Homo sapiens: one gene and its partners. The protein of the gene in region 1 interacts with the protein of each later gene in a biochemical or structural test. Each region holds a gene or a part of one and is shown in the gene's direction. Other genes may lie near its edges.

The links.
Region 2: the proteins of UBE2D1 (region 1) and SMURF2 form a complex in vitro, tested with the Homo sapiens proteins (4 studies listed by BioGRID, with this or other methods).
Region 3: the proteins of UBE2D1 (region 1) and SMURF1 form a complex in vitro, tested with the Homo sapiens proteins (3 studies listed by BioGRID, with this or other methods).
Region 4: the proteins of UBE2D1 (region 1) and TOPORS form a complex in vitro, tested with the Homo sapiens proteins (3 studies listed by BioGRID).
Region 5: the proteins of UBE2D1 (region 1) and RNF114 form a complex in vitro, tested with the Homo sapiens proteins (3 studies listed by BioGRID, with this or other methods).
Region 6: the proteins of UBE2D1 (region 1) and PRKN form a complex in vitro, tested with the Homo sapiens proteins (3 studies listed by BioGRID).
Region 7: the proteins of UBE2D1 (region 1) and MUL1 form a complex in vitro, tested with the Homo sapiens proteins (4 studies listed by BioGRID).

Annotation. Positions count from the first base shown.
Region 1 is NC_000010.11:58,341,506-58,345,005, forward strand, and holds part of UBE2D1 (ubiquitin-conjugating enzyme E2 D1), read left to right. Parts: intron 1-3,500.
Region 2 is NC_000017.11:64,541,782-64,544,544, reverse strand, and holds the end of SMURF2 (E3 ubiquitin-protein ligase SMURF2), read left to right. Parts: 3' UTR 1-2,263; downstream 2,264-2,763. UniProt on the Homo sapiens protein: E3 ubiquitin-protein ligase which accepts ubiquitin from an E2 ubiquitin-conjugating enzyme in the form of a thioester and then directly transfers the ubiquitin to targeted substrates.
Region 3 is NC_000007.14:99,134,109-99,137,608, reverse strand, and holds part of SMURF1 (E3 ubiquitin-protein ligase SMURF1), read left to right. Parts: intron 1-3,500. UniProt on the Homo sapiens protein: E3 ubiquitin-protein ligase that acts as a negative regulator of BMP signaling pathway. Mediates ubiquitination and degradation of SMAD1 and SMAD5, 2 receptor-regulated SMADs specific for the BMP pathway.
Region 4 is NC_000009.12:32,540,044-32,542,586, reverse strand, and holds the end of TOPORS (E3 ubiquitin-protein ligase Topors), read left to right. Parts: coding exon 1-1,200; 3' UTR 1,201-2,043; downstream 2,044-2,543. UniProt on the Homo sapiens protein: Functions as an E3 ubiquitin-protein ligase and as an E3 SUMO1-protein ligase. Probable tumor suppressor involved in cell growth, cell proliferation and apoptosis that regulates p53/TP53 stability through ubiquitin-dependent degradation.
Region 5 is NC_000020.11:49,946,397-49,949,896, forward strand, and holds part of RNF114 (E3 ubiquitin-protein ligase RNF114), read left to right. Parts: intron 1-2,851; coding exon 2,852-2,959; intron 2,960-3,500. UniProt on the Homo sapiens protein: E3 ubiquitin-protein ligase that promotes the ubiquitination of various substrates. In turn, participates in the regulation of many biological processes including cell cycle, apoptosis, osteoclastogenesis as well as innate or adaptive immunity.
Region 6 is NC_000006.12:161,346,917-161,349,841, reverse strand, and holds the end of PRKN (E3 ubiquitin-protein ligase parkin), read left to right. Parts: 3' UTR 1-2,425; downstream 2,426-2,925. UniProt on the Homo sapiens protein: Functions within a multiprotein E3 ubiquitin ligase complex, catalyzing the covalent attachment of ubiquitin moieties onto substrate proteins. Substrates include SYT11 and VDAC1.
Region 7 is NC_000001.11:20,505,352-20,509,455, reverse strand, and holds the start of MUL1 (mitochondrial ubiquitin ligase activator of NFKB 1), read left to right. Parts: upstream 1-1,304; 5' UTR 1,305-1,431; coding exon 1,432-1,551; exon of another isoform or gene 1,552-1,929; coding exon of another isoform or gene 1,930-1,932; intron 1,933-4,104. UniProt on the Homo sapiens protein: Exhibits weak E3 ubiquitin-protein ligase activity. E3 ubiquitin ligases accept ubiquitin from an E2 ubiquitin-conjugating enzyme in the form of a thioester and then directly transfer the ubiquitin to targeted substrates.

The DNA of each region.
Region 1 (3,500 bases):
GTATAAAAAAATGAGGTAACCTATGACAGTTAAAAAGTTCTGAGATTTCTTCTCTGTGGAAATAAATAGCCTAGAACTAAATAAAGCTGTTTATGCCTATTTTAAGAAGCCAGGCACATATGAAAACCAAACCTAGCAGGATGTGGGATTGCCTCCAGGAAAGCAAAATAGCGTCCTTACTCGCTTTAGTTCCCTGAAATACGCATAGAAAACATATGGGCCCTTTATTTTCATTTAATGAGTGCTACTAATAGAAATGATAAACCTAATATTTAGCCATAAAACTGAGTTAATGGTCATCTACTAATGTAATAGTCCCTGCCTTTTTAATAGTGAATAAACTGATTACATTGAATTAACAACAGGAATTGAGATACTTATCCTCTCTCCTCTCCTGTGAAATGCTGGAATAAATGATACTAGAATATATAATATGACCATATTTGCAGTTTGGGAATTGGAGGGGTAGGTCCTCAGGCCACCTTAGCACATGTGTCTGAAGGCAGGACAGGTTTTATTTCTGGCCCATCTTGGTCTTGATGGTCTCTGAGAAGCTAAGGTTTTTCTGTGCTTAATTTGGTTCTGAGATGAATCTGTGAAGGTTCAGTTTCACACATTAGACAATAACAGGCTGTTGTGTTCCAGGATTGTCCTTAGTATGGGGAGGAAGCTGCTATCTAGAAGCATACAGTCTAGTGCTGTCCATTCCACCATCATGCTCTGCATCCTCTTGTCTTACCTCTTTCTGGATGTATTTCCCACTGTCCTCTATTCATATGGTCCCGTTTGTATGGCTCATCTCTTTTAGTGACACCACAGTTCTTATTTAGATTCCTGGGTTTTTTTTCAGACTTAAGAAACTTCTCCAGTGGGGGTGAGCTGAGGAGTTGGTTCCTTCACCTTAAGCTTCCTCAGATAATAATCTGATTGTTCTCATTCTAGGTGGCCACCCTCCTTATGCGAGCAGAGTTTGGGAGTAGTATGGTTGGATTGTCTAGAGAAAACCAAGTGGACCTAACAAATGGTCTGGGTTCATTTTTCTTCTCTTCTCTTAAACCAGGAAATCTCTGGCTTGTGTTTTTGCTTCTCCCAAATTTTGCTGTATTTTGTTTTCACTTAAATTTAAAGATATTTTCTAGTTTTCCTTTTTATCTCTTCTTTGACCCTTGGATTATTTAGAAATACGTTATTTATTTGCCATATGTTTGGAGATTTTACAGATAGCTTTCTGTTGTTGATTTCTAATTCCATTATGGTCAGAGAACAAATTCTATTATTATTTGACTCCTTTTAAATTGTGGGTACTTGTTTTTTTTGGTTTTTTTTTTGTTTTTTTTTTTTTGAGATGAAGTTTGCTCTTGTCGCCCAGGCTGGAGTACAGTGGCGCGATCTCGGCTCACTGCAACCTCTGCTTCCTGGGTTCAAGCAATTCTCCTGCCTCAGTCTCCCAAGTAGCTGGGATTACAGGCGCCCACCACCACACCCAGCTAATTTTTTGTATTTTTAGTAGAGACAAGGTTTCACCATGTTGGTCAGGCTGGTCTTAAACTTCTGACCTCAGGTGATCCACCTGCCTTAGCCTCCCAAGTGGGGACTTGTTTTATGACCCAGCCTTTTCAGGTGCTCAACAGCACTTTTGAATGAATGATGGTTAATAGTTTGTAGACTTCATTTTGGTATTTTCCAGTTGGTATCTATTGACTGTAGGTTATTTCTAAGAAATGGATGCCAAACTAAGGTGTACACCTTCCCAGTATCTTTTTTTTTCTCTTTTATGAGTTTCCAAACAGTTTAGTGAATAATAAACATCCACTTTTTAAAATGGAATAGAAAATATTAGTGCTTTGCATATAGTAAGGGTGTTGTTTCATGAAATTTGTTTTAGTGTGTGTGTGTGTACTAGGTTGTAATGTAAAATCTTTTTCATATTATAAATTGCTGTAAGGAAAGCTGGAAAATCACTGTTCCATAACATAAGATCCTTAGGTAAAATTAATGTTAAAAATACATGCCATACAACCATACATATACATGTATACATATATAGGGAGAGCAAATGAATACATATACACATACACAGAGACACACAAATATATTGATACACATATACACATAATGTAAACTGTTCTAGCCTTGGAAACGTTTGCATTTGATACAGACCGTATGCATTGTTTTCTTCTACAAGTAGCAGCATTTTAGTGACTGATGTACAACCATAATATTCAAGAATAATACTGGATGATACTAACAGAGAGTAGAGAATTTATTATGAAACACTCAAGTGCCCACTATATGCCAGTTATTAGGTATAGAGCTGTAAGAAGCAATATTTAATAACAAATATTTGGTAGGTATTGGTAGGCATGTTCATGTTTTACACACGTTTTAATAAATAGGCAGCTAGGTTTTCTCTCTTTTTTCTTCCATCTTTTTTTGGTTACTGTAAAGTAAATAGTAAGTTTTGATAATGGAGCACTCAAAATGCTCCATTTGCATATTTTATGTGAAAATTCTATTTATTTAAGTTGTGTATAATTTCCTGTAAAGTTTTTCTTGACTCTCAGAGTGTCTTTAAACACAACGCTCCTGAAAGCTTATGAAATAGTATTCGTTTCTAACCTTTTATATGATATAAGCTCCTGAGAAAAGATAAGAATTCCTTCTCATTCCTTCACTTATCACACTTTTGTTTCTCTGGAGCATAGCTAAAAATGTGCAAATGGCCTTAATACAGTACTGGAGCATTGTTTGCTTCAGTGTTGGTTGAAAATAATGTGCTCTAGCTGTTACAGTGTTGAGGTGAGTATTGAATTGGGGTGGGAAGAGTGCTGGAGTAGAAGTCAGATGGTCTGTCCCTTTGTCCTAGTTTGGCTTTGTGACCTTGGCCAGGAGACTCAGTCTTTATACTCCTCACTTGGAAACTTAATGGATTGAACTTGATACTTTCTGTCATCTCTTCTGAATCATAATTTTAGGCAAACCTAAATAATGTATTTGCTGTTTTTTTTTTTGCAGCAAACAACAGTGATCACAAAAACAAACACTGAGCTTTGGCACTGTGCTATGGAGCTATATTAGACTTGACTTAAAATTCCATTTACTTTGAAATATCAGATTTGAAATAAATGTTGACATCTCTTAATGTATAAGGTCAATAAATCTTATTCTCTAACTAAAGAGCAATTATTTATGATGCAAATAAAATGTATTTCTATTATTGCACTGGTAACATAACGTGGTTCTCTAATTCCATTTAGCTTTTCTCTATTTGTTAGCTTTTGTACTTAAGATTGTTTTATCCACATATTTAGACAACTGCCATACACAGCTGCACAGCTGCCTTATAGGTAATAGTTTTTTTGTTTTTTTTTTTTTTAATGACAAAGTCTGGCTCTGTCACCCAGGCTGGACTGCAGTGGCATGATCTCAGCTCACTGCAACCTCCACCTCCTGCGTTTAGGGGATTCTCATGTCTCAGCCCCCTGAGTAGCTGGGTCTAC
Region 2 (2,763 bases), on another chromosome or scaffold:
GAAGCAACGAAAACTCTGGGGTGAGGGATTGAAAAAATCTGAAATCACAGTTGGATTTTTAAATTCAACCATCAAAAATATGTACTATCAGTTTTTTTTTACATTGATGTGAAATAAGCAAATTTTCATGATAATTAAGCTGCAAAATTTAAAGTTATCAAGTAAATAGGTCCTCTGTGTTCTGTTTCATGTGATGGAGTGGGTTTCAGTCTGTGTTCTTGGAGCCAAAGGGTTCCTCAGGGGTGCCTCAGGAGTAATGGTTTAAGAGAAGAGGGGCAATGAGAGGGAGCGAGGGGGAAGGCCTAGTTGGTATTTGAGCAGGGGCCTTAGGCTCCATATCCCCACCCCCTTTACCCAGAACAGCCCATTTTTCTTATGTATATTGGAATTTCAAGTAAGCTTTCATGGGGTGCAGTGGGGCGGGGAGGAATGGATGGGATAAAAAAAGTGGAGATTTTGCTGCTTTAAAAAAGTTGAGAACTACTTGTGTAGTTTTTAAGTATTTTAATGTATTTCATTTGGCCAAATTCAACTGCCACAAGCAAGCTAGTCATAGTTGTAACTGTGCAGTGGTAATATGCTTATGCCTACCTTTTTCCTCTCAAACAATTTGTTTTTTTTACATTGCATTCTGAGTACTGAAGAGCATCTTGAAATGTATGGAAGTGGTTTCTATGCTATTTGATAATCAGTAATGTTCAGCTGTCATGATAGTACTTTACTGGTTGCAGACCCATCTCTCTTTTATATTAAAGCACTAGTGCAGTTTATAATTGTGCCTACTTTTAAAATCTTTCAGTAAAAAAGTACATAATGAATACAGAAATCATAACTGACAGGGATACAGTAATAATGAAATGCTACTATCACTTATTTTAATATACAATATAAAGCAGGCAAATACCATTGCTTTTTGAGTGCCTTTTTAACTTTATACTAATGACTTAATAGAGCTTTAAAAGAAAGAAATTGGCTGGGCATGGTGGCTCACACCTGTAATCCCAGCACTTTGGGAGGCCGAGGTGGGCGGATCACCTGAGGTCAGGAGTTCGAGACCAGCCTGGCCAACGTGGTGAAACCCTGTCTCTACTAAAAATACAAAATTTAGCCGGGCATGGTGGCGCACTCCTGTAATCCAACTACTTGGGAGGCTGAGGCAGGAGAATTGCTTGAATCTGGGAGGCAGAGATTGCAGTGAGCCGAGATCGCACCACTGCACTCCAGCCTGGGCGACAAGAGTGAGACTCCGTCCCCGCCCAAAAAAAAAAAAAAAAGAAATTACTCTCCATAACAGTCTATGTTATCACCAACATATATAAAAACATGATTTAGATTTCCATTTCAAAGTTACATTACCCGATTACTTCCAAATAGGTGCTAAGCAAAAACCCCCAATGTATTATTGAACCATGGACTTGCACCTCATGTTTAATGTGAATATTTATTTCCATGTCCCTCTTAACTGGTTTTTTCTTGTCTTCCCTCTAGCTGTATTGTTATTTCAGATATGTGATATCTGTTTTCATACTCTTGCCTTTCCATCATGAATGCTTAGTTATGAACAGAGATTCCTTTGTAGAGCTCATAGGCAGTACAGAGAGGTAAGTCTTGCCTCAGAGGGCCTTGTATCTTGGTGTAGTTTTTAAATAGTGCATAGTGTATAGTGTATAGTGTACATTTTGTTTTGCACATAGTTTGTTGCCCCGAATGGGTTTTTTACCAAGCCTTTTTTTCTTTCATGTATTTACAGTCCGGAGCACAAGATTCTCTTCTTTCAAATACAATGTAATTCGCTTTACTTTACAACACTAAATCTGGGCTTTGAATTTCCAGTGCATTGGACTGATTGGATTGTTGGGAGTTAGAGGCTGTTCCAACCATCCTTAGTTTGGGAGAGTGGCTCCTTCTGCTTGTTTTCTAAGCGTACAGTCAACGGGTGCCATTTGTGGTATTTAACATGTTAGGATGATTGTTCCAAATGCTGAGTTGTTTTATTTCTAGATGTAATTAGTTCACTTTATGTAATATTCTTCTCTCAGACTGACTTTAAAAACAAAGTTTTATCATTTTCATTGTATTTGTATTTATTACAGAGTGTTTTAGCTTTGATATTCTTTGTATTTTCATTCATTTGTTACATGAGCTTTATCAGTAACATCTGTATAAATGGTTTTTAAAAATTAACTATGTATGTGCCCATGCCGAAGTCGAGCAATAAAATCAATGCTGTTTGCACTGTCACAGCATCAACGTTTTTAAAGAATATTGAGTTTGTAATGAATCGTTTTGAAAACATTTATGGTTGGCTCTATGGAGGGTGACAACATGAGTCACAAAATGAAAAGTTCAAGAACACATGCCATCCTGAGTTGATGCCTCTGTCATGTTGCAGAGCTCAGCTTTCTGTCTCCTCGCAGAGCAGGGAAGGTGCCCGTTTTCTCCGGCCGTGGTGACTGCTCAGTTGGTAGTACCTGTTGGGGGTACCGCATAGGTGGATTTCTGAGGGGGGTCAGGGGCTAGTGGGGAAGAGCATCTTGGTCCTGTCACCAGTCTGCAACCATCTTTGCTATAATACATCTCCGCTCTGTAGGGCAGGCCTATGACAGGGGCTCATATTTGCCAGCCCTACCTTGGTATGTCGAGCAGTAAAATTCTCAAAATGAAAAGGAGAAATCAATTGTATTTTTTCTAGAAGCTGTGGATTTTAAGGTTTATAATTCACTACTGTATTAATGATAGTGGACTAAAGTCCAGCTAACTCTA
Region 3 (3,500 bases), on another chromosome or scaffold:
GCATTTCAGATGTTTTAAGCTCCGGAGCCCAACTTGCAGCTTGCTTTCAGGAGTCTGGAGGAGCATGTCACGAAGCTGCAGATTGTAGATGGCAGCCTGCGTTCTTTGTATGTTGGGCATCCGCTGAGTTCTCTAAAGGGCATGATGCTTTCCTGTGGTTCCAACACTGGACTGGGGATCAGAAGGTCTGAATTTGATTTCTAATTCACACAAGTACCACAATGAAGAAAGGGGAGGGGGTGCATAGGATTATGATCTTTTCATGATTCAGTTTTCCTATCTTTAATGCCAGAGATCTGTCTTTTTAGAGCACAAAAGGACCTGCTAGAGATGGATTAAATATTTTAATGAGTAGTTATGAATTATTTATAGAGTAGCACAGTATTAATACAGTCATAGATTCCTGTTATGTCTTATTCCTAAATAGCCAGGTAAATAATAAAGCTAATAACGTACTTTGACATTGAAGAAAATCTATAGAACCGGTTAATAAACATGGAAAAATAATACAATGAATTGATAAATTATGTATTCAGAAATTCCTTAGAGAAATAGTGTTAGAAGCCAAAACCAGTATTATCTTTATTTTTATTTTATGTTTTTCCCAGGCCAGGTAATGTGCCATCGGACAGTATCATGTTTATTTTTTGTTTTGTTTGGAGATGGGGTCTCACTCTGTTACCCAGACTGGGGTGCAGTGGCACCATAACAGCTCACTGCAGCCTCGACTTCTTGGGCTCCAGTGATCCTCCCACCTCAGCCTCCCGAGTAGCTGAGACCACAGGCATGTGCCACCACGGCTGGCTAATCATTGTAGTTTTGGTAGAGATGGGGTTTCGCCCTGTTGCCCGGCTGGTCTTGAATTCCTGAGCTCAAGCAATCCACCTGCCTCAGCCTCCCAAAGTACGTGGATTACAGGCATGAGCCACTGCACCTAGCCAGCATCATCTTTAAATGATGAAATTGTGGAAACATTCCCATTAAAATCAGGAACAATGCAGGGATGTACACTGTCAAAATAGTTATTATTAATAACTAGAGAAAGACATCAGAAAGCAGGAAACAAAATTGCTGTTATTTATAGACGTTATGATATATCTTTAAAAGCCCAAAAGATCAGCTGAAAAACACTTATAAACAATAAAAAACTTTAGCTGGATGGAAAATTTCTCCATGGCAAAAAATAGGATAAAATCAACATGCAAAGACAAACTAGGAACAACAATCTGTAATGGATACGAAAATGAAAGTCTGGTTTTCCTAATATATAAAGAGCCTTCAAAATCAATTAGGAAAAGGCCAGTACCTAATAGGCAAAGAATATGGACAATTCACAGAAAAGAAAATGGAAATGGATTTGAAACATGTGAAAAGACAACCCTATTTTCTCTCTTCTTCTTTCCTTTTCTTCTTTAGAGATGGGGTCTTGCTCTGTCGCCCAGGCTAGGCTAGAGTACACTGGCGTGATCATAGCTCACTGCAGCCTGGAACTCCTGGGCTCAAGCGATCATCAGCTTCCTGAGTAGCTGGGACTGCAAGTATATGCCGCTGTGCCCTGTTCTCTCTTATGCCCATTTTCTTTCTCTAAAAATTTATTTTTAATTGATAATCAGCCCTATTCATACTAAACAAACTACAAATTAAAAGTAAGAATGAAACAATTTTTCATCTAGAAGAGTGGCAGATCAAAGAGATTGAAAATCTTCTGTGATGAGACAAGAGTGTGGAAAAACAGGTCTTTTACTCTAGTGGTTGAGAATATAAATTGATAGAGTAGGTACCAAGAGCAGTTTGGCACTGTCTATCAGATCATAAATGTTTATGCTCTTTGATCTAGCAATTCTGCATGTAGGACTTTTTTCTTATGGGTGTTTTCACACATTTATGTAAAGTCCGGTGTGTAAAATCATTGCAGCATTGTTTGAAATTATAAAAGACTGAAATCAATGTGAATGTGTATCAGCAGGGACTAGTTAAGTAAATTATCGTGTATTCCCAATGATGTGTAGCTGTAACATAATAAGATAGTGTTTTATATTCTGATATGGAACATTCTCCAAGATATATTATTGAGTGGGGGGAAAAAGCATGATTCAAAACAGAGGCTAGTGTGTGTACTATTTGAATAATAAAACAAGAAATAAAAATAAAGGGGGAAATCTATAGATAGGTCTGTATAGAATACGACTGAAAGATTTTGACTGTTGATTTCCTTTGAAGAGATTCTCCTGTTCTCCTCTTCAGAGGAAAGAGAGAGGAGAGAGGGAGAGAGGAGAGAAAAGAGAGAAGAGAGGGTGACTTTTCATTATATGCCTTTTGTAATATTTAATCTCCTCCCTTTTCTCACCCCCTTGAGCATGTATTGCTTTTCAACAATTAAAAAGATTAAAAAGCTCTTAAATAGATAAGAATTTCTTAGAGCAACTAGTAAGTACACTAACTGCCAATTGTTTTGAAATGTAGACATTCTGAAAAATCAAAATGATTGTGCCGAATGTATTTTAAAAGGCTAAAATATTATAGCATTTCAAAGTACATACTCATATTTATAAGGACTTCCTCACTAGGAAGATTCCTGGGTTCTACAGAATAAAATTCTTGGCTACTTGTCTTATAGCTCTGAACAGACTTATTTTCCCAGAGAGTATGTTTATTATGTAATAGCGAGTTGCCTGACCCCCCAAAAAGCTTGTTCTATCATATTAAAATAAGGCAAAATGATTACTTTCAGATTAAGAAATTTGGACTCTAGATCTTGTTTATATAGTGAGTTCTTTAAAAAACTGAGGTCTTGGTTCTGAATAATAGTGGTTTACATAATTTATTTAGAATGTCATTTGGGGTTATCTCTGACCTATTTTTATAAAATAATCTCATCTTTAAAATAGGAGTAAAATGCTCATTTGCATAAGCCAGTAATAATAATTTAGTATTTTTCCAAGTATTTATAGTCAATGTGTTTGCCATGAACTTTTTTAAGGGATTGTTTTTAATTTTAGAAGTGCTTTAAAAAGCAATATTGGCATCTGGCTCTGTAGAAGTAGAAAACATGGTAACTTCAATGTGATATATTTGCTTTTTTCCCCTCTTAGGTCTTTGGGGTAAAAAAAATCCAAAGTTTACTCAATTTTATTTCTACATATATTACCTACAAATTATAGAGGTGAGACCTGCTTGCTGCCTGTTCATACCTGTCAGTGATACTAATACCTCCCGTCTGTACAGTGTTTCATAGTTTCCAAAGGGTTCTCGCGTGGTTCCTCACTTGAGCCTGGTGAGGAAATACCTGTAAACATGGGTAGAAGTTTTAGTCCCTTGTAAAACTCTGGTATAATATCAAAACCAGGAAATTGTTCACAGATTCTAAGGATTGGGGAAAAGAGAAAAATAAACAAATTGCTCAGGAGTAGAATTTGCAAAAAAAAACGAAACAAAACCAAAAAACTCTGGAAATAAGGCACGTTTAGCCTTACAGAGCGAGACCCTGTCTCAAAAAAAAA
Region 4 (2,543 bases), on another chromosome or scaffold:
AGAACTAGAGATAGCAGTTGGTCCAGAAGAAGCCAAACTCTGTCTCTAAGTAGTGAAAGCACAAGCAGATCAAGGTCTCGTAGCAGTGATCATGGTAAAAGAAGATCACGGAGCAGAAATAGAGATCGTTATTATTTAAGAAATAATTATGGAAGCAGATACAAATGGGAGTATACTTATTACAGTAGAAACAAGGACAGGGATGGGTACGAATCATCTTACAGGAGGAGGACTCTGTCCAGAGCTCATTATTCTAGACAGTCTTCAAGTCCAGAATTTAGAGTTCAGTCCTTTTCTGAAAGAACAAATGCTAGGAAAAAAAATAATCACAGTGAGAGGAAGTATTACTACTATGAAAGGCACAGATCAAGGAGCCTGTCTAGTAACAGATCAAGGACTGCATCTACCGGGACTGACCGGGTGAGAAATGAAAAGCCTGGAGGGAAACGAAAATACAAAACACGGCATTTGGAGGGTACTAACGAAGTGGCTCAGCCATCTCGTGAATTTGCTTCTAAAGCAAAGGACAGTCATTACCAAAAATCTTCATCAAAATTGGATGGAAACTACAAAAATGAGAGTGATACCTTTTCAGACAGCCGATCATCAGACAGAGAGACAAAACACAAAAGGAGAAAAAGGAAGACCCGGAGCCTAAGTGTAGAGATAGTTTATGAAGGAAAAGCTACTGATACAACTAAACACCATAAAAAGAAAAAGAAGAAACATAAGAAGAAGCATAAGAAACACCATGGAGATAATGCTTCACGTTCCCCAGTTGTAATTACCATTGACAGTGACAGTGATAAGGATTCTGAAGTAAAGGAGGATACAGAATGTGACAATAGTGGTCCTCAAGACCCTCTACAAAATGAGTTTTTGGCTCCTTCCTTGGAACCATTTGAAACTAAAGATGTAGTTACAATAGAAGCTGAATTTGGTGTGCTGGACAAGGAATGTGATATTGCCACACTTAGTAACAACTTGAATAATGCCAACAAAACTGTAGATAATATTCCACCTCTGGCAGCTTCAGTTGAACAAACTCTCGATGTAAGAGAAGAGAGCACCTTTGTTTCTGATTTGGAGAACCAGCCCAGTAACATTGTGTCTCTTCAAACTGAGCCATCAAGGCAATTGCCATCGCCACGGACATCATTAATGTCAGTATGTCTTGGTAGAGACTGTGATATGTCTTAAAACTGCCAAAGCATTTCATTGAGAATTATGATGTTATAAAAAGGAAAAAGGAAGAATGTCGTCTACTGCAGTCTATTTAAAGATGACATTTGGTGAAAACTCTCTTCCTCCTTACAATATTTTAAATGATTTTTTTTTTGGTGTTAATTTGTAAAAATCATTATTTGTTCAAAATGTATGTCCCACCCTCAAAGATATGCACTTTTAAGTGAAGAAAATGATACTGCTAGCAGCTTATTTAAAACTTGGGGTCCTTTTTAAATAAGAAAAATTATATAAATTTTAGAAGTTATTTCATAAAGCCATACGGTATTGACATATTTTTAAGGTAGTCAATGAGTATTTTTGAATTTTTTTTTTTTGAGAGTTATTCTGGAAATGTGTTATAAGCTAGGAGAATCCCTTTGGACAGTCTTTATTTTTCTTCTTAAAAATTTATATGATTCAAAACCATTTCTTCAGGTTAAATTGAGGCATTTTAATCTGCACAGTTTATCTTCTGCCAAAATAAAAATTTACTATTTCCTTTATATACTTGTTTATCTGGACTGCCAGTAAAACAAATGTGTATTCAACAAAAGAAAAAAAATAAAACAGTAACACTTTAAAACAAGAATCAGACATTTTCCTATGCAGTATTTTTTTTTAAAGTTTATTTTAGTAAAGTTAAAATCTTGAAAGTAGCTAAGGGCATAATTATGTCATAAATACTGAACTTCAGGTGAACAAATACTTTATAGTTTTAATTATTTTCTTTGATTTTGAGGAGTATCTTATTTGCTTTCTATCATCAGTAAAAACAGCATTTAACTTGCTAAATAAACATGAAAAACCCTTGTCATACTTCTTTTACATTGGTAGTTCTTTCATATAAAGTGGTTATGTTTTATCTTGTTTTAGGGATGATAAAATTACATCTATGCTGATGTAGGATTGCCACTGAACAGTGGAGCTTGAGTTAAATCTTAATTCAGCCTTCAGTTTGCCTTTGCCTTGCTACTGTATTCATTCTTTATTCAGTAGAAATTGCAGTGCCTACTATGTGGCAGGTTCTGCACTAAGTTTTGGGGTTTTTTTTTTTGTTGTTGTTGTTGTTTTTTTTTTTGAGTTGGAGTCTGGCTCTGTTGCCTAGGCTGGAGTTCAGTGGTGCAATCTCACTTCACCACAACCTCTGCCTCCCGGGTTCAAGCGATTCTCCTGCCTCAGCCTCCGGAGTAGCTGGGACTACAGGCACGCGCCACCATGTCCGGTTAATTTTTGTGTTTTTAGTAGAGGCGGGGTTTCACTATGTTGGCCAGACTGGTCTCAAACCCCTGACCGTGATCCGCCCGCCTCAGCCTCCC
Region 5 (3,500 bases), on another chromosome or scaffold:
TGCTCTATAGTACACATTTTTTGCTGACCACTTGGGAATAAGCTACAGATACCATGACCATTTTTGCACCCTGAATACTTCGCACCCTGATACAGGAGTGTGTATGTCTTAAGAACAAGAATGTTTTCTTGGAAAATTATATTTTTGTGTGTATAATTAATCATATTCAAGAAATTTAACATTGATTCAATCTAATGTCTAATGTGAAATTCATGTTTTAATTTTAACAATTGTAATGTCTTTCATAGCAATTTCCCCCTCCCCCCAAGGCAGAGGCAGGGATGGTACACGAGTTCTCTGTCCTCTGGGTGCTACATTAAGTCATGTGATGTCTGTTGTTGGTAACATTAACTTGGTTCCCTTGGTGTCCACCAAATTTCTCCATGAAGCTGCCATTTTATTTTTGGAAGTAGCTTCTTCATAGTTGTGGGGAAAGAGGATTTAGGTGAAATTATTAGGAAAAGGCTTATCAATCCTTGGACATTTTACTCAGATATTACCTACTGGCATGTGTAGTCTCCTTTAAAAAAAAAAAAATGTAGGCTGGGCACGGTGGCTCACACCTGTAATCCCAGCACTTTGGGAGGCCAAGGCGGGTGGATCAGTTGAGGTCAGGAGTTCAAGATCAGCCTGGCTAACATGGTGAAACCCCATCTCTACTAAAAATACAAAAATTAGCCAGGCATGGTGGCGGGCGCCTTTAATCCCAGCTACTTGGGAGGCTGAGGCATGAGAATTGCTTGAACCTGGGAGGCAGAAGTTGCAGTGAACTGAGATCCTGCCACTGCACTCTAGTCTGGGCAGCAGAACAAAACTGCCCCCCCCCCCCCCCCCCCCCCCAAAAAAGTATTTGTTCCATCTTAGCAATGTGTTACCTTTCTCTCTCAATGTGATTGACAGACCAGGTCTTTTTTTATAGTTAGGTGTATACTTCCTCTATAGTTTTAATTTTTCCATTTATCTCATACTGCTTCTCTTGAACTACATACTCTGTTGTATGGGCAGCCTTCAGCTCCATTGCTGTAAACAGTGGTGCAGAAATTTTAGAATTTTAATGAGCTTTTGTGAGAGTACTAGGGCAGCTATCAATGCTCATCTTAAGATGGAACTGGCCATTTTGAGAAACATATCTTTGCCTGTATCTATGTATGTTTATAAGCTAAAGTCTTAGATACAGATTGACTTGGTTAAATGTTACTTGCACTCATAATTTTGTTGGATACTGTTATTGCTGAACTTTTCTGGTATGGCAGCCTAATTTTCTGTCTTTTTCCCCTCCTTTGGCTTCTGAAATCCCTCTGATTATGTTGTCTATGTTGAGGCCTTCTCTTCAGCCTTTGGCCCTCTGTTCTGTCTTCCTCTCCCTCTGCAAGTTTTTTTTTTTTTTTTTTTTTTTTTTTTTTTTTTTTTTTTGAGGCGGAGTTTCGCTCTGTCGCCCAGGCTGGAGTGCAGTGGCGCGATCTCGACTCACTGCAAGCTCCGCCTCCCGGGTTCACGCCATTCTCCTGCCTCAGCCTCCCGTGTAGCTGGGACTACAGGTGCGCGCCACCATGCCCGGCTAATTTTTGTATTTATGGTAGAGACGGGGTTTCACCGTGTTAGCCAGGATGGTCTCGATCTCCTGACCTCGTGATCCGCCCGTCTCGGCCTCCCAAAGTGCTGGGATTACAGGCGTGAGCCACCGCGCCCGGCCCTCTGCAAGTTCTTAACTCTGCGTTTCTCCCTTCCCTTTAGAAGCCATCTCCTTTTCAGTCTCTAGTCCCACCCTATGTTCTAGCTCCCCAGCTACAGCTGCCTGCCCACCTTTTCCACTCAGTCTTCTACCATTCCAGATTTCTCTCTTGTCAATCCCCTTTATCACTGTATCTTCCTTGCTGTGGGGTAGGGTTCCACCTTTAAGTGGGGGCACTTAGGTCTTCTCTCTCCCTGGCATGAGTTTTCTGCACTCACTGGTCTGGTTGTTTACATGTGTTGACAGTAACTGCCGCCTTCTGGCCTTTTCTCCGTGCTGCTGCCTCTCTTCTGGAGCACAATTTTTTTTTTTTTTTTTTTAAGACAGAGTCTCACTCTGTCACCCAGGCTGGAGGCTGGAGTGCAGTGGCACAATCTTGGCTCACTGCAACCTCCACTTCCAGGGTTCAAGCGATTCTCATGCCTCAGCCTCTCAGGTAGCTGGGACTACAGGCGTGTGCCACCATGCAAGGCTAATTTTTGTATTTTTAGTAGAGAAGATGTTTCACTATGTTGGCCAGGCTGGTCTCAAACTCCTGACCTCAGGTGATCTACCGCTTTGGCCTCCCAAAGTGCTGGGATTACAAGTGTGAGCCACTGTGCCCGGCCTGGAGCACTCTTTCATGTCCTCTTTGCCTTTCCAAATACTTCCCAATCTTCAAAAACCAAATCAACCTTTTGTGTGAGGGCTTTTCAGCCTGATCCCCCTCTTCTGAGCATTTCCTTTGTTAAGATGCATGTAAGGCTGTGTTTTACTTCCCTGGGACATTGCTCATCGGCTTATTTTCTTAGTTTTCCTCATGCTTTTGGATTGTCTTGTGTGCTGGATTGGAAGGCCAGTCTAGGCCCCCCACCAGGCTGACTCACTTCTCTGCTTACAGTAGGGAATGAGAAAGGGTGGTATCATGATTTGAACTTTACCCAGTCCCACGTGTCATTTGACTTGAGCTGGAAATTTGCAGTGTTTTTTTGGGCTGCTGATGTGCACAGGAAGGAGTTACTGGCCCTGGACAGTATGTCAGGAAAGCTGTCCTGGAAGAAAGGAGGCCAGACACAGGCCACAGAGGGCTGGTGCAAGCTTGGAAATTGGGTGCCTAAGACCTTGCTTTTGTGTTGAAAGGTTTGTCCGATATGTGCCTCGATGCCCTGGGGAGACCCCAACTACCGCAGCGCCAACTTCAGAGAGCACATCCAGCGCCGGCACCGGTTTTCTTATGACACTTTTGTGGTAAGTCTGGAGCCTGGGCTCTGATCCCTCCCCTGGGGGAGTGGCACGGCTACTTCACTCTTCTCAAAAGGGGAAATGGGGATCCCCAGTGTTGAACTTTGTCGCTGTTGTGATGGGCTTCCAGTCTGTATACTGGATACAGTGATAAAGGGGATTGACAAGAGAGAAAAGAAGACTGAGTGGAAGAGGCGGGCAGGCAGCTGTAGCTGGGGAGCTAGATGGGCTTCCAGTCTGTATACTGTAGCTACTATACAGTTTCTATTCATGGGCCAGGCAGGTGGCCAGAGTGACATTTATTTACTTACATGAGATGGAGTCTTGCTCTGTCGCCCAGGCTGGAATGCAGTGGCGTGATCTCAGCTCACTGCAGCCTCCACCTCCCGGGTTCAAGTGATTCTCCTGCCTCAGCCTCCTGAGTAGCTGGGACTACAGGCGCATGCCACCATGCCCCATTACTTTTTGTACTTTCAGTAGAGACAGGCTTTCACTATGTTGGCCAGGCTGGTCTCGAACTCCTGACCTCGTGATCTGCCCACCTTGG
Region 6 (2,925 bases), on another chromosome or scaffold:
CAGAGCCATCTGCGACACCACCAACAGGCGTTCTCAGCCTCCGGATGACACAAATACCAGAGCACAGATTCAAGTGCAATCCATGTATCTGTATGGGTCATTCTCACCTGAATTCGAGACAGGCAGAATCAGTAGCTGGAGAGAGAGTTCTCACATTTAATATCCTGCCTTTTACCTTCAGTAAACACCATGAAGATGCCATTGACAAGGTGTTTCTCTGTAAAATGAACTGCAGTGGGTTCTCCAAACTAGATTCATGGCTTTAACAGTAATGTTCTTATTTAAATTTTCAGAAAGCATCTATTCCCAAAGAACCCCAGGCAATAGTCAAAAACATTTGTTTATCCTTAAGAATTCCATCTATATAAATCGCATTAATGAAATACCAACTATGCGTAAATCAACTTGTCACAAAGTGAGAAATTATGAAAGTTAATTTGAATGTTGAATGTTTGAATTACAGGGAAGAAATCAAGTTAATGTACTTTCATTCCCTTTCATGATTTGCAACTTTAGAAAGAAATTGTTTTTCTGAAAGTATCACCAAAAAATCTATAGTTTGATTCTGAGTATTCATTTTGCAACTTGGAGATTTTGCTAATACATTTGGCTCCACTGTAAATTTAATAGATAAAGTGCCTATAAAGGAAACACGTTTAGAAATGATTTCAAAATGATATTCAATCTTAACAAAAGTGAACATTATTAAATCAGAATCTTTAAAGAGGAGCCTTTCCAGAACTACCAAAATGAAGACACGCCCGACTCTCTCCATCAGAAGGGTTTATACCCCTTTGGCACACCCTCTCTGTCCAATCTGCAAGTCCCAGGGAGCTCTGCATACCAGGGGTTCCCCAGGAGAGACCTTCTCTTAGGACAGTAAACTCACTAGAATATTCCTTATGTTGACATGGATTGGATTTCAGTTCAATCAAACTTTCAGCTTTTTTTTCAGCCATTCACAACACAATCAAAAGATTAACAACACTGCATGCGGCAAACCGCATGCTCTTACCCACACTACGCAGAAGAGAAAGTACAACCACTATCTTTTGTTCTACCTGTATTGTCTGACTTCTCAGGAAGATCGTGAACATAACTGAGGGCATGAGTCTCACTAGCACATGGAGGCCCTTTTGGATTTAGAGACTGTAAATTATTAAATCGGCAACAGGGCTTCTCTTTTTAGATGTAGCACTGAAATCCTTGCTGGAGGGAAGAGAGGGGATGAACTCAAGTTTTCCACATCCTGGGACACCTGTCCCTCTTTTCCTAACTGCCTAAGATAACCCATTTCTTCCAACCATCTGAGGACAGTCCCGTCGTCTCAGAGGCCCTGCACCGGGGAGAGACTGGGCTCTGCAGCAGCCACATCAGCATTCACAGCTTCATGTGGCTTCACTGTCTGAAAATCTACCGACTCCAACATGGCCCCACGGTGACAACAGACCTGTGACAGGAAGCCCAAAGCTCACATAGAAATGGTGGACAGATCAAAGTCTCTATAGTAAGGGAAAAAAAGAGAGGTGGCAGGCATGAGCCCCCTGCACCCAGTGGCTCGTGTCCATACTGAGTCCAGACCCTGATCAAGGCCTGACTTAGTGTCACTGGCAGTCCCACTAAATTACACTTCCTTACACTGGCCCGATGCGACAAATCAGGTGGCTCCCTTCTGTCACGTGGAGCACACAGTGTTTTCCATCATCCATAGCTTTCTTCCTGATGGTGTTTGCATTATTGCGCCTTCCCAATCTGCATGCTGCGTTGGGCTTGCGGTGCCTGAACAAGGTTTGCTCCCATGAGCTCAGGCACCCTAGGATCCCCTGTTAGACTATTAGGCTGTCCAGCATGGTCTCCTTTCCCTTCTTGGTGGTGGTCTTTTCCCTTTCCAGAATAGAACAGTGATTCTTAAAATAAGTTAGAGCAGGCCGGGCGCGGTGGCTCATGCCTGTAATCCCAGCACTTTGGGAGGCCGAGGTGGGTGGATCACGAGGTCAGGAGTTCAAGACCAGCCTGGCCAAGATGATGAAACCCCGTCTCTATTAAAAATACAAAAATTAGCTGGGCGTGGTGGCAGGCACCTGTAATCCCAGCTTCCTGGGAGGCTGAGGCAGGAGAATCACTTGAACCCGGGGGGCAGAGGTTGCAGTGAGCCGAGATCACGCCACTGAACTCCAGCCTGGGCAACAGAGTGAGACTCTGTCTCAAAAAAAAAAAAAAAACAAAAACAAAAAAGCAAGATCATCCACTACACATGAACATGAATCACAGTATTATTTGCACAGGAAGGGTGTAACAAAATATGAATGTATCAAAAAATAGAAATAAAGTCTTTGCAGAAAAAGTCTGTTTTTCTCTGAAGTGTGTTGAGATTATCTGACAACTCTAAGATTGTACTTAAATTGTCAATAAAGCATCAAAAGAGCTTCTGAGTCTGTCTTTGAAGATACATTTTCAATCAATGTGAAGGGTGACGGAGGGAATCACAGGCTGTATTACTCCATGGGCCTCACTTGTGGCCTGGAGGAATTACCTGGTGATGAAATAGCCATTCAGTGACCTGGAGGAATTACCTGGTGATGAAATAGCCATTCTCATATCAACTCCAAGCTCCAGATTACCGCTGGCTGTTTCTCTTTGTTAAATAAGAGTAGTTTTTTAAGGCTATCAAAATTTGAAAGGGTTCCAAAAAGCAAACCCTCATTCATAAAAATCTAAAAGTTACTTTCCTGCCTTACTAGCAAACTTTTCTAATAAAAGTGTTTAAAAGAGAAGTTTGCATTGGAAAAGACTATCTATAAGGATTTTTTCTCATGTCATTCTAGAAAATTTCAGTGACTTTGCATTGCTGTCAATGTGGGTGTGTTGACGCTGCATTTTCAAAGAACTGCTTTAGTGGCCATGCATTGTTTATTTCACAATGAG
Region 7 (4,104 bases), on another chromosome or scaffold:
AGACAATGTTGATCAAGATTAATGGTGCCAACACCCATTGACCTAGCAATTCTACCTCTAGAAATTCTCCCTACATAAATACTTATACATGTAAACATGAAAATACAAGAATTTAGGCTTGGTGTGGTGACTCACGCCTGTAATCCCAGCACTTTGGGAAGGCAAGTCAGGAGGATCACTTGAGCCCAGGAGTTCCAGACCAGCATGGCCAACATAGTGAGACCTTGACTCTACAAAAAATTTTTTAAAAAATTAGCCGGGGGTGGCATGCATCTTTAGTCCTAACTACTGGGGAGGCTGAGGTGGGAGGATTGCGGGGTGGGAGGCTGCAGGGAGCTATGATTGCACCACTGCACTCCAGCCTGGGCGACAGAGCAAGACCCTGTCTCAAACAAATAAAAAAATTAAAGCATAACCTGTAGGAGATAGCTCAATGAATGCTGATGTTTAGAAGAAAGATTTGGGTTATCTCCGATTATTTTAGAAAGGAGATGCATTACAGAGATCAGGGAACAGTCTCTGAGAAGGATCCCCTGGGTTTTATGGCCATACCTATTGCTTTTAGCTGTATAACCTTGAGCAAGTTACTTACCTGAGCCTCAGTTTCTTTATCGGTAATCTGCATTATAGCTGTGTTGTGAAGGTTCAGTGGGATGGTGCCTGCAAAACCTCCCCCGCCTCGAACCTGACACATAATAGGCACTAAGCGTAGCCGTAATTATTATTTAATAAATATGTTGTTCTATGTGGTGATGGCAGATTAAGGGGCTACTTTGGTGATATAATCTGCCCTCCTGGGGTAGAGTTGAGGGCTTTGGAGTTGGGTGAATTCCTCTCTAGCACTCACTAGACTTCGAGCACATCATTCCCTAACCTCTATGGCCTCACTTTTCTCATCTGTAAAGTGGCCAGAATAAATTCCAAGTCTTGAGAGTTTGCTCTGAAACTTAAACGTATATTACTCATAAGAGTTTAATACACAATTATTTTATTTCCTGCCAATCTAATGGCGAAGACATGGAATAACCCATCAAACAGCCCAGTAACCCCAGGAAACCAGAGGGACGGAAACCAGGGCGATGGGCGAGTCAGTCATGGCCAGTGCGCCGTGTTTCGAAGGGGACGGCCATGGAGCGGTGGGTGGTCGCTCAGCTCCCCAATCGCTCTCCGACACCCGGCTGGGGAGACAGGACCTCCCTGGAGGCCGCAGCAGCTTGATTGTCACCCGGGCAACCCCACCTTCCGGTTCCCTCTACAACCCCTTGCCCCGCTTCCGGTTCCGGCGTCGTGCGTCATCGCTGGGCGACTGATTTCGAGTTTCCGGTCAGGTTAGGCCGGGGGGGTGCGGTCCTGGTCGGAAGGAGGTGGAGAGTCGGGGGTCACCAGGCCTATCCTTGGCGCCACAGTCGGCCACCGGGGCTCGCCGCCGTCATGGAGAGCGGAGGGCGGCCCTCGCTGTGCCAGTTCATCCTCCTGGGCACCACCTCTGTGGTCACCGCCGCCCTGTACTCCGTGTACCGGCAGAAGGCCCGGGTCTCCCAAGAGCTCAAGGTCAGTGCTGGAGCCGGCCTGGCCTCAGCCGGGTCATCTCTGTCCCAGGTGCTGGGGAGCCCATGATTCACCTTGGCCGCCCCACCGTCGGAAACTGTCCAAAAAAGGAAACAGCCTCTGAAGGGTGTCATCCAGCCAGTAGATGGAGGAGCGAGGGGCAGGATTCGGGCTCGGGATAACGGCTGCTCCGCTCCTTTTCTCCCAAGTCCCTCTTATGACTCAGAATGAATCTTGACTTCATTACTTTACTCGAAAAATATTTATTGAACACCTGCGATGCTCCAGGCAGTGAGTCGAACAGATGAAAGTCCATCCCCTCGTGGAGATACCATTTTAGTACGACTAGACAGCAAACATGTAAATCAGGCGGTGTAACAGATGGTGAGCAATGCTTTAGAGTAAGGTAGGGGAGAGAGGACATGGAATGCTGGAGAAAGGGGGATCTCCTATCTTAAATAAGGTGACATTTGAGCAGAGCCTAGGAGGAGATGAGGGGAGTCATGCAGATATCTAGCGGGAGATGGAAGGAACAGCAAGTGCAGACATCCATTTACTGAACCACTCCACTCCTTGCTTTACAGACGCTTCCTTTTTATATTACAACTATTTTTATAAATGGCGCTTTTTTCTGAACTGTGCTTTACGGTTTACACAACACATTTGCATTTATTTTTATTTTTTATTTTTTCGAGATGGAGTCTTGCTGTGTCGCCCAGGCTGGAGTGCAGTGGCGGGATCTGGGCTCACTGCAGCCCCTGCCTCCCGGGTTCAAGTGATTCTCCTGCTTCAGCCTCCCGAGTAGCTGGGATTACCACGCCCAGCTAACTTTTTTGTATTTTAGTAGACACAGGGTTTCACCATGTTGGCCAGGCTGGTCTCCAGCTCCTGACGTCGGGTGATCTCCCCGCCTCGGCTCTCCGAAGCGTTGGGATGTAAAGGCGTGAGCCACTGCGCCCAGCCACATTTTCATCTTGATTTTATTTTTTTCTTAACAATAATTTTTTTTCCTTTCTTTCCTCTCCTTTTCTTTTCTTTTTCTTTTTCTTTTTTTTTTTGAGACGGAGTCTCGCTCTGTTGCCCAGGCTGGAGTGCAATGGCACGATCTTGGCTCACTGCAACCTCTGCCTCCCGCGTTCAAGTGATTTTCCTGCCTCAGCCTCCGGAGTAGCTGGGATTACAGGTACCTGCCACCACGCCTGGCTAATTTTTGTATTTTTAGTAGAGATGGGGTTTTGCCATGTTGGCCAGGCTGGTCTCCAACTCCTGACTTCAGGTGATCCCTCTGTCTCAGCCTCCCAAAGTGCTGGGATTACAGGCGTGAGCCACTGCGCCTGGCCCACAATAATTTTTTGAAGTAAATAAAATGACAGTTACCACCACATTGCAAATCAGAAAATTGAGATTTGGAGGAAAGGCCATACAGCTAGTCAGCTTGAAACTTAAATTTAGGTCTTTTGATTCCAAGGGTAGGATTTTAATCTGATTGACATTGCTTTATTGTGACTATCTGACTGGTCCAGAGAGATGGACCTCTTTAGGTCAGAGACAGGGTCTTATTCATCCATTCTCTTTCCTCTAGCTTCTAACACAGTACTTGGCAAGTGGTAGATGCTCAGTAAATGTTTGTGGGTTCTTTTTGGCTGAAGTTTCACAATACAAGAGCTAAGGGCCTAACCTAATTTGATGTTTATATGAAAGATGGATTCCTAAACCTGACTAACTTAATTATCAGATTGTTTTCAGTAAGGGTTTAGAAACTAATGTGTGGGCCAGGCTACTCCAGCCTGGGTGACAAGAGCAGGACTCCATCTCAGAAAAAAAAGAAACCAATGTGTGAACTCCAGTCCCTGCCATGAAGGGAGTTTTGGAATCTGGAAAGAACCAAGTTATGAGGCAATTGGATTTGCTGTGCAGTGGCGTTATAGTGAGATTCCAGCTGCCCTGTATTTCTCCTGATTAAATAATCAAGTTAATCCTGAAGTGATTAGCTCTGTGTATCTGATACTTCACTTTCTGACTCCAAACCACTTTGGCCTCAAGTTGGCTGGAGGAGGGCTTCTTTGAAGCAGTGAACTCTTTAGGTCTCATCTTTGGGTGACCTTAAAACCTTTGCCAAACAGTTCCTAAATGAGGATGAAATAGCCCCTTCCTGGAAAAAAAGTTGGGACTGTTAATATTTTAGATTCTATTTTCTATTTCCTTCCTCTCTTTCTCCCTCCCTTCCTTCCTTTTCTTTCTCTTTGGCCTTCCTTCCTGTCCTTCATTTCTTTCTTCTTTCTTTTTTTCTTTTTCCTCTTCTTTTTTTTTTTTTTTTTTTTTTTTGAGACATGGTCTTACTCTGTTGCCCAGGCTGGAGTGCAGTGGCACAAACATAGCTCATTGCAGCCTCGAGCTCCCAGGCCCATGCCAGTCTCCTGCCTCAGCCTCCTAAGTAGCTAGGACTACAGGTGCACACCACCACCTCCAGCTAATTTTTTATTTTTCATAGAGATGGGGTCTTGCATGTTGCTCATGCTAGTTTTGCACTGCTGGCCTCAAGCAGCTATCCCACTT